Regions from separate parts of the Homo sapiens genome. Here regions 1 and 3 are each reported to be linked to region 2. Evidence: microRNA targets listed by miRTarBase, many of them from high-throughput screens and not tested one by one. Region 2 holds a microRNA gene; each other region holds the end of a gene's coding sequence.
What was found. Region 2 holds the annotated microRNA hsa-miR-6715b-5p (ACAGGCACGACUGGUUUGGCA, at 2,007-2,027, opposite strand). A microRNA usually pairs through its seed, bases 2 to 8, with sites in the 3' UTR of a target mRNA and lowers its output. Matches are read on the target gene's strand: a 7mer-m8 pairs with bases 2 to 8, a 7mer-A1 pairs with bases 2 to 7 and ends in A, and an 8mer does both.

Region 1 (3,252 bases), not on the chromosome of region 2:
ATTGCCTAGGTCTGACAGCAAGAAGTGTCAGAGGTGGGAGAAGTGGGGCTTTGAATTCGTGGCTCTCTAAGAGGACAAGAGGGGTGGGGCCTGAGTCCCAGAGGGTGGGCCTGGGGAAGCTGGATCCTGGAAGGTAGGAGAAAATAGGAATTTTCACTGAGTTTGAGTGGGAATGGAACTGACTATATATCTTACCCTTCCTCCTCTTTAACTGGGCTCCTCCCTCTAAATCTAGGCTGCTGTATTTATGAGAAACCTCGGGCCTTTGGCGAGAGCTCCACGGAAAGTGATGAGGAGGAAGAAGAGGGCTGTGGTCATACACACTGTGTACGTGGCCACCGCAAAGGACGGCGTCGTGCAACCCTAGGACCGACCCCCACCACCCCTCCCCAGCCTCCTGACCCTTCCCAGCCCCCTCCAGGGCCAATGCAGCACTAAATCCCTCTCTCCTCCAGCATTCCTGTGTCTGTCTGGCCCTAAATGTATCCATGTGGCTACTTCTCCAGCCCCCTCCTTCCCTCTCTTCTGCCTGATAGAGGGAAGAGGAAGAGGAGGACGAACAGAGATCCTGAAATTCTGACTTGCTGCTATTCCAGAACCCAGCCTCCTGGGTTTCCCCAGTCCTCATTTTTCCTCCCAATACCCACCCTTCTCTCTCGAGGGATCTAGGCACCTTGGTCCCAGTGTCTTCCTTTTGTTCTCACTGCCAAACTGCCTGTCCTGGGATCTAGTTATCTTGGCCCTGCACTCTCAACATGAGTAGCGAACACTTAAATTGGGTTTTCAACAGTCCCAGCTTTCACTGCCAGGGTCCCAGTCAGATTCCAGGAATTTGCGCCCTAACTTTGCTTGCTAATCCTGGTTTAGAGCTATCCCACTAAAATATTTAATCCTAATTCTTAGTCCTTGCCTGTGAGATATGAGGTCTTACAGGAGACCTCAGAGCTCCCAGCCCTTCTCCTCCTGCTAACCCTTCTCACACCCTCAAGAGGAGTTAGAAAAGAGGTCCTTGTCATTCTCACCTCTTATGGAAAATGGAATAAGAAATAATCATATCCTTTCTTCCCACCCTTCTCCTGTTATTTAGGATTTCTGACAAAGCTGGCTTGAGATTGGTCACTTAGAGCCGACTGTCTCCTCTGCCTTTTGTTTTTCAGCTTCAGAGACAGATCCAATATAGTCCCAGGGACCTGGGTCTCTGGGAGAGGAAGGAAGAGGGAGGGAGCAAAGAGATTGGGGTATGTCCCCTGTAGTACACTCTTACCTCTTACTTCCTAGACTTTGATTTCTCCGGCAGCCCAGATGTTCAGTTCTCTTGGCCCCTCTCTACCCCTTACTGGGATCCGGTTTTCATTTTCCGGTCCTTTTGCCATACACAGTTACAGAGATCAGTCAAATCCATACCACCACTGAGATCTCATTTATTGCCACAGATGCACAAAATAAATAACCCAAAATCACAAAATGTGTTAAATATGGGCCCATTTATACTTATGGGGAAGGGTGTGAGACTATACACAAGGATGAGTTTGGAGATGTCTGAAGTATTCCCAGGTTGAGGAGGAGAGAGGGGAAATAGCACCATTGGTTCCTTTCCGTGAGTATGTGCGGGGAGAAGTTTCAAGAAGGTTCTTATGGAAAAAAGGCTGTGAGCATAGAAAGCAGTCATAGGAGGTTGGGGAACTAGCTTGTCCCTCCCCACCCCCAGATCCTGCAAAAGAGGTACAAAGCTTCCCAGAGGGCCACAGGGCCCAGACCAGAGTCAAGCCTCTTGTTTTAGGAGAAACCTCAGTGGACAGGCAGGGTAGCCCAGTCCTTAGATCTGTGGGGAAGGCCCTGAGCCCTTCTGGAGCTAGGAGTGGCAAGAGTGGGAGTCAAGTATTTGACCAGCAGAGCCTCTATGTAGGAATCATGGTCACTTTACCAATACTGATGGGGAGGGCCTGTTCCCCATTGCAGGCCTAGAATGGTTTGAATGGGAGAAGTCAGGAAGTACTGTAGTAGCTGTAGGGGAGAGAAGATTCTGAGAGCCAGAAGGCAGGAATGGATTTGGTTTTGAGCAGGGACGTGGAAACGTGGAGACCAGGTGAGGTCTCATTATTTTGGGGCGAAAATGTGGGTTGCTATTAATACTCCTGCAATGGGCGTGTGAATGTGTTCCCAGAAATGAGTGGGGAATTCCACCCCCAAAAAGCAGCTGCAGGGCCAGTGGCCGGGCCAAACTTCTAGTTGGAGACGAGACTCAGCTTTCCGCTGGTACAATGCGGAGCGGAGCACGAGGGTCGCAGGTGCAGAACAGCGGGAAGATGCGCTCCCCCAGGGGGCCAGGCGCCTGGAAGGCGTAAAGCAGGTCGAGTGAGCGGCCGTCGTAGAAGGCCACGCGGCCCCGCTCCCAGTCCAGGTCCACGCGAATGCGCCGCGGCGGGGGCTCAACACCGCCCAGCAGGGTGGGTTCGGGTGCCGTGAGGGCCCACAGGCGGCCGCCGCGGCCCTCCACGGCCCACACGGCCCCCGCAGGGCACAGCCTTACGCAGCCCTTGCGTTGCACTGATTCCCCGGCCGCGCCCACTGCATAGTGGCTCTCCTCGTCGTCCGCATCCTCCCCAGAAGAGTCTCTGCAGGAGGCGGCGTCCGCAGTCTCCACCTCCCAGCAGTGGCGGCCGGCCCCGAAGCCCTGCGCACCCAGCACAGCTGGGAGCTGATCGAAGCGCTTGGGGCCGTCAGGGGGCGCGGGCGTCCCTGGTGGGGCCAGTTGTACGCTGCGGCGGTCGGCGGAGATGAGCAGGCGGCGGTGTGCGGTCCCAGGGTCCAGGGTCAGGTCGGCTGGAGACGGGGAGGCAGGGAGAGGACCTCATGAGAGAGTTTTCTAAATCACAGGCGGGGTAGGGTGGAGAATAGTCAACGAAGATCACGTAAAAGACTGAGAGCTAGTGACCACACAACAGCTCAAAAGGCGACTGCAGGACCAAAAAGAAGGAAGGCATATGAAGAGCAGACCTGGGCAATATCAGACCTTGTACTGATGCACCACTTCTGTAGAATTGGACCTGGGGAAGGATCATACTGGCCCAGTGCAGGGAGCACAGCAGGAAGATCAAATGAGAGGTTGTCTCGTTTGTGGGGTTGGGGGAGGAAGAGTGAGGCTGATCTGACTTCGAGGGAGGAGTAAGGACTGATACCTCAATCTGCATCATCTGGGGTGGGGCATGGGAGCTGGGTCAGCAAAATGGGGAAGGTTCATCTAAAGAGAAA
Region 2 (3,252 bases):
TTGGGTGTGACTTGAGCTTAGGCAGCTGTGGCAGCAGGGGCAATGCTGCACCTGGTGCCATTGTCCTTACTTTGTATGTCCCTCAAGGGCTGGACATATTCCAGTCCTCGGAGGGCCTTATCTCCTAGGGATTTTCTTTCTTTGGGACACAGGTGTAACTTACTAAAAGTGTGACTCTTATAAGTCACTCCCCTCCCATCGTACCTTGTCTATAGAATGAGGACAGTAATACCCATCTCCTAGCTCATCAACTTGACCTCACAGTTGTGAAGATCAAGTGAGGTGCTGCTAATCAAAATGCCTGGGAAGGTTAGAGGTCATATAACCACCTCGGGAGCCTTGTGTGTAAATCGCTCAGCAGCTCTTGCTGGAGTTCAAGGAGATGACAGTTCACTCTTCTTTCCCCATCTGCCTCAGCTGCCCCACGGATGAAACCGTCCTCGTGCATGAGAATGGGAGAGATCACAGGGCAACCTTCCAATTCAATGCTTTCCGGTTCCAGAACATCCCCAAACTCTCCAAGGTGTGGTTACACTGTGAGACGTTCATCTGCGACAGTGAGAAACTCTCCTGCCCAGTGGTGAGCTGCCTCTCTCCAGAAGGACAATGTTACCTAAAGGGTGCCAGTATTGGAGGAGCTGGAGTTTGAGTGGGGAGATCATAACCAGGCCAGGGCAGCTGTGTGCTGAGGACATCTGGAGGAAATGGCACTGAGTATAAGGGCAGATGCTCGTGAGGGCAGATGCTCAGGGCCCTATCTGCCCTGCCTCCAACAACCCACATGGTCTGGCATGTGTCGCCTAACCTGCTGGGACCTGCTTTCTCATCCTTAAGCAAAGTGTGTTAAGTAATGATGGCCCTTCCCTCATCAGAGGGCAGTGTAGGTAAATGAAAGTGATAACAGACTTGGAAATACTTGGAAGAAGTGAAAAGGGCAAGGGAAATTCAAGGTCTAGGTGGCAGGGACAGGCCGTGGAAATAACTCAAAAGGTGGGTGTTTTTAGTCTTGACTGAACAGCCCGAGGGTTCACCTCTGTGACTTCAGAGAGATGCTGCAGAAATTCCCGACACTGGATCATGGCTGATTTGACCACGTGAGAGGAAGGCCTGGGCAGGCTGTGCTTTAACAAGCCAGCAGTCATGCCGGTGCTCACTCAAGCCTGAGAACCACCACTTAGACACTTAGACATGCCAAATCTCAAACTGTTCTCCTTTCTGGTCTCTTTCAACTGGAGACCTCGGTGTTTCCAAAGAGGCTGCTATCCACATAGCCTATAGTAACCAACAAAAATAAGGTCATAATCTCTATTGCTGTTGTTTCATTTGGCCAGAAAATGGTTCTTTATGAGCACAAACAGCAAAAGGGAAAGAAACCAGAGAGTGCAGAGCCAGGGAGAGGAGGGGAGAGACACTGTACAGTTGATCAAAGGATAAGTATCAATGCCATATTTTTAAAAAGAAAGAAAAGAAAATGAACCAGAATACAATTGCAAGTGTCCACTTCTCTAATTATTGTGGTGAGAGTGGTAAGTAGAAGCCTTATCAAAGGAAATGGGATCAATCCCTTCCACACTCAATGACCTCTTCCAGAAGGATTCCCTCTGGCTTGAAGAGTTAACAAAGTAAAGCTTTCTCTTTGTATTCAAGTTGGAGAAGGGATGAACAGTGTGTCTTCTGGGTTATTTTTTAAAAAGGTAACTCATCTCTGTTGACTGGGGAATTGTGACTCCACCCCATTTGTGACCTTTTTAAAATATCTTTTCTTTCTCTTTTCTCCCCTTTGCTCACGCATCATCCCACCTTCCCCGCTTCTCTCCTGTCTGCCTCTCTGGGTCTTCAGACCTGCGATAAACGGAAGCGCCTCCTGCGAGACCAGACCGGGGGAGTCCTGGTCGTGGAGCTCTCCCTGCGGAGTAAGCGTCTCTGTTTTCCTCTGTTTTCCAAACGGTTGAGTTCACGCTGGGCTGCGTCCACAGGCACAGCCGGTTTGAGCATTTTTACTGAATTGCCAAACCAGTCGTGCCTGTGGGCACAACCTTCACCTGCTCCTGGAGTCTTCCAGCCAGGGGTGGGGAACAGCTCAAGCCAAACGAAGGAGTTGAGGTTTGTTATCTACTCTGAAAGTTCTAACTGCACCCTAAATTCAAATACCCCCAAAGAATCAGGAAGTGCTGAGCTTCCAAACAGAGCATGCAGTGAACAATAATAATAGAAAATGAGATGTCATGGGGCCGGGCTCGGTGGCTCACGCCTGTAATCCCAGCACTTTGGGAGGCCGAGGTGGGCAGATCACTTGAGGTCAGGAGTTTGAGACCAGCCTGACCAACATGGTGAAACCCCACCTCTACTAAAAATACAAAATTACCTGGGCTTGGTGGGGCACGCCTGTAATCCCAACTACTCGGGAGGCTAAGGCAGGAGAATCACTTGAATCTGGGAGGCAGAGGTTGCAGTGAGCTGAGATCGCGCCATTGTACTCCAGCCTGGGCAACAAGAGCGAAACTCCGTCTCAAAAAAAAAAAAAAGAAAGAAAGAAAAAGAAGAAAGAAAGAGAGACAGACAGACAGACAGAAAGAAATAAAGAAAGAAAGAAAGAAAGAAAGAAAGAAAGAAAGAAAGAAAGAAAGAAAAGAAAGAAAGAAAGAAAGAAAGAAAGAAAGAAAGAAAGAGAAAGAAAAAAGAAAAGAAAAGAAAGAAGGAAGGAAGGAAGGAAGGAAAAATGAGATGTCATGAGAATGTCATGTGCAAGTCAAAAAACCTTTACTGAGTATCCAGCACTGCCTGGCCTGGCAGGGCACTAGGATTTCAGAAATAAATGTGACCCAAGCAGGCCCTGTCCTCAAGGGATTTACTGTCTAGCAAGGAGAGAGATGTTAGACACTAAGGGAAAGAGAAATTACTGTTAAGGAGGGTGACAGTGGGCTGGTGCCATGGTTGCACAGTTGATCATCACTAATGTGAAAATCCAAAATCCGAATGCTCCCAAATCTGAAACTTTTTGAGCACCCACATGATGCTCAAAGGTCATGCTCACAGGAAATGCTCATTGTAGCATTTTAGATTTCAGATTCCAGGTTTTCCAGTTAGGGATGCTCAACTAGTATAATGCAAAGATTCCAAAATCCAAAAAAAAATCTGAAATCTGAAACACTTCTGGTCCCAAGCATTTTGGATAAGGGATATTCATCCTGAATGGAGCAAAGGGATTCAACCTAGTACAGGGCTTGCAGAAGAGCTCTGCTGACAATCTCC
Region 3 (3,217 bases), not on the chromosome of region 2:
GTTTAATGAGCCTTATGGGGTATCATTAGTAACAGGTTAATGAAAACAGGCAAAGGTCCTGCAACTTGTGTCCGAGCCTGTTCTTTTTGCCATCAGGTCGACGCCCACGGTAACATTCTCCTCAGCACCCTGGAAATCCGGAATGAGACGAGTGGCTCGGAAGTGCTCACGAGCGTGAGCGACCCCAAGGCCACCATGTACTCCTATGACAGCGCCAGCATCCAGTACCGCAAGCCCCTGAGCAGCCGCGAGGCCTACGGGCGCGCCCTGGACCGGCACGGGGTACCCAGCAAGGGGCGCATCCGCAGGCGTGCCTCCCAGCTCAAAGTCAAGATCCCCGACTTGACTGATGTGAATTCCATAGACAAGTGGTCCCGAATGTTTTTCCCCATCACCTTTTCTCTTTTTAATGTCGTCTATTGGCTTTACTATGTACACTGAGGTCTGTTCTAATGGTTCCATTTAGACTACTTTCCTCTTCTATTGTTTTTTAACCTTACAGGTCCCCAACAGCGATACTGCTGTTTCTCGAGGTAAGAGATTCAGCCATCCAATTGGTTTTAGGTCTTGCATATCAGTTTTATTACTGCACCATGTTTACTTCAAAAAGACAAAACAAAAAAAAAATTATTTTTCCAGTCTACCGTGGTCCAGGTTATCAGCTCTTTAAGAGCTCTATTAATTGCCATGTTTACAAACAAACACAAAGAGAGAAGTTAGACAGGTAGATCTTTAGCAGTCTTTTCTAGTTTCCCTGGATTTCACTGATTTATTTTTTAGGGAAAATGAAAAGAGGACCTTGCTGTCCGCCTGCACTGCTTCCTGGTAAACTATAACAAACTTATGCTGCCAAAAAAAAAAAAAAAAAAACATAAAAAAAAACACACAATTTCCAGGATCTCAGAAGAAAAAAACAAAGCCATTGACAAGTTACAGATTTCCAGGAAGAAGGCAAAAGAAAAAGGAGCTTAGACAGGGAAGGAAGAGTCCCCTCTATCCTTAAGTTCTCCCATGTCCGTTGTAAAAGGGCTCCACAGCTCCACAGAAGAAGAGGGAAGGAAGGACAAGCGCTGGTCAAGGTTATGCAATCCCAACCTGCCATCTTCACTGCACCATTAAGCTGGATATTCTGAAATATGCTTCTTTCTCGACTTTCCGGCAAATTTTAAATTAACATTAGAATCCAACCTGGTCGACCTGGTAGCCATTGAGAACATTTTTCTTTTTTTCTTGAGAATAAGGAGCTTGGAAGGCAATGACCATTTTTCTAACTGGCCATTTCAAACATGCAGCCCTGAATTCATCTCATCAGCCTGGAACCCCCTGATGCTGTGCCAGGAAGCCATGCCACCCCAGTTCCATAGTTCCTGCTCCAGAGAGTGTGGGAGGAAGGGGATGGTGAGCAATTTTTGCTTGAGAAAAATATTGCCCTTGCCATTAGGAAGGCAAGATTTATGTGCTGTGAAAAGGGTGCCTGGGCAGTTATCTGAACTGCCAAATCTTAAATCAAATAGTATATATTTCTTTGCCTTCTAGAGAGCAGTATCTAATGGTGACAGGCTAGTCACACAGGCCTCAACTGGCACTTCATGGCTCTGCTCTCTGAGCTCTGCATTCCAGACTGGAATGAATGCTTTGGAAAATGCACAAATACCCATGTTGATGTCATTCCCCTTCAGGACCAGAATTCCATTTTAAAGAAAATCTTGAAAATTGCAGAACTACAGATAAAAACAAGAGCGATGAGAAAAGCAGTGGAGCTTCCAACACATGCACCAGTCCCTAAAGAATAGACCCTGTCTACACTCATTAATCACTGTCATTGCTCCTCTGCTTTATCTCCGCTTGTGGATTACTCTTGGTCATGGTTCTCATAGAAGGGGCATCCTTCAGTAGCCCAACACAATTCTAAACATGTCCAACCAGCTACAGTTGAGATTCTTCCCATGTTATATCACTGAAACCTTGTCATTTTATTTTTCAACCTCAGTATCTAAGAATTCTGTATGTTCATTTGCAAGACTGAATGAAACTGTAAGCTAACCAAACACTGATGCAGGAGGTTTGGGACCTGACCCATGAATGTGAAATAAGGGTTGAGGTAATAATAGGGACGATTGCCTGGCTTAATGATCTAGCTTTTTCCCTAAGACTGTGATGGGGTCCATGTTTACAATAGCATCAGCTTCTGGAAATTACAGTCTTCACCGGACAGATGATGCTGAATTTTTACTGATGAGCTGAAGGGGAGAAAGGTACAAGATATTCTTTTAGAAAGCAAGAGGAAAAGGGAACCTTAAAATAAATGAATAGTTAAGGCTGAAGATAATATATATACAAAAACTCTGCTTTAACTGGAAAAAATGATCTCAGTGGTTTCATGATAGGGACCACATTTTTATTTAGATTTTTAGTTGTATTATCACACTTTCCTGGTCAAGGAAATCTCCAGCCTTAGGGTATGAAGTCATCCATTTTGAAACTCTTCAGTCCCTTGGCAGGGTGAGATGCTTTGCCATCATAAAATGGCCATATAGAGTGGCATGTGGCCATGTCAGTGATTGTAAGGTTAATATTCCGTAATGACCGCAAAGGAACCACTGTGCAGCCATTTATCTTAAACACAGGAAGGAAAATTGTTGGCTGATGCCTAATAAAAATGAATCATTCTGGGTGTCAAAGCTCTTTTAAAAGCTTTTAAGAATGAAATGCTAAATCAGAAAGGAAGTATCTGTAATCTATGTTCCTTAACAAACAATTTATTTTTATTTATCTATTTAGATTATTATTCTTGGGAAAGATTGAGAATATTTGTATTTTTATTATTATATTTTTATCTTGTCTTTAAAAAATCTAACGATTTTGATGCTGTAGTTTTAGATGTAAAGCATCTTCTGAGAAAAAAAGAGAACATTTTGAATTCATATCTTAACCTTTGTAAAATGTAAACTTATTAAGCCTGAATCTACCCATCAGGCACAAAATGGTGTCACCATATGCCCTCCTGGGCAGTAGAGGGGCCACAGCCAGCATTATAAAAATCCTGGTAAATAGCTGATTTTAGAGGCAGTGGCAGCCAGAAGAATGGAGAAGCTGCAATATTTATGGTTAAAGACCTCTATCCCCACTTCTTTCTGGACACCTGTGGGCCAAATTCTTCCCTCCTTGGCCCCACTCCTAGCCAAGTCCTCCCCTTTCAGGCTGAACAGTGAATAGA

Region 1: the mRNA of PPP1R11 is a reported target of hsa-miR-6715b-5p. Seed matches in the 3' UTR shown: 7mer-A1 at 527-533.
Region 3: the mRNA of GABRB1 is a reported target of hsa-miR-6715b-5p. The part of its 3' UTR that is shown has no 7-base or 8-base seed match.

What each region holds. Positions count from the first base shown.
Region 1 is chr6:30,068,869-30,072,120 of GRCh38, forward strand. PPP1R11 (protein phosphatase 1 regulatory inhibitor subunit 11) reads left to right here. Exons shown (of 3, transcript NM_021959.3): 3 at 236-1,465. The coding sequence ends at 438. It overlaps RNF39 (ring finger protein 39), which reads right to left. Exons shown (of 4, transcript NM_025236.4): 4 at 1,402-2,823. The coding sequence ends at 2,243. Among named protein-coding and RNA genes, the nearest start is that of PPP1R11, 3.3 kb to the left of the region's middle.
Region 2 is chr10:112,297,652-112,300,903 of GRCh38, forward strand. MIR6715B (microRNA 6715b) reads right to left here and starts at 2,037; the gene lies at 1,961-2,037. It overlaps TECTB (tectorin beta), which reads left to right. Exons shown (of 11, transcript NM_058222.3): 8 at 418-580; 9 at 1,841-1,913. It overlaps MIR6715A (microRNA 6715a), which reads left to right and starts at 1,961; the gene lies at 1,961-2,039.
Region 3 is chr4:47,425,578-47,428,794 of GRCh38, forward strand. GABRB1 (gamma-aminobutyric acid type A receptor subunit beta1) reads left to right here. Exons shown (of 9, transcript NM_000812.4): 9 at 97-870. The coding sequence ends at 441. Among named protein-coding and RNA genes, the nearest start is that of COMMD8, 37 kb to the right of the region's middle.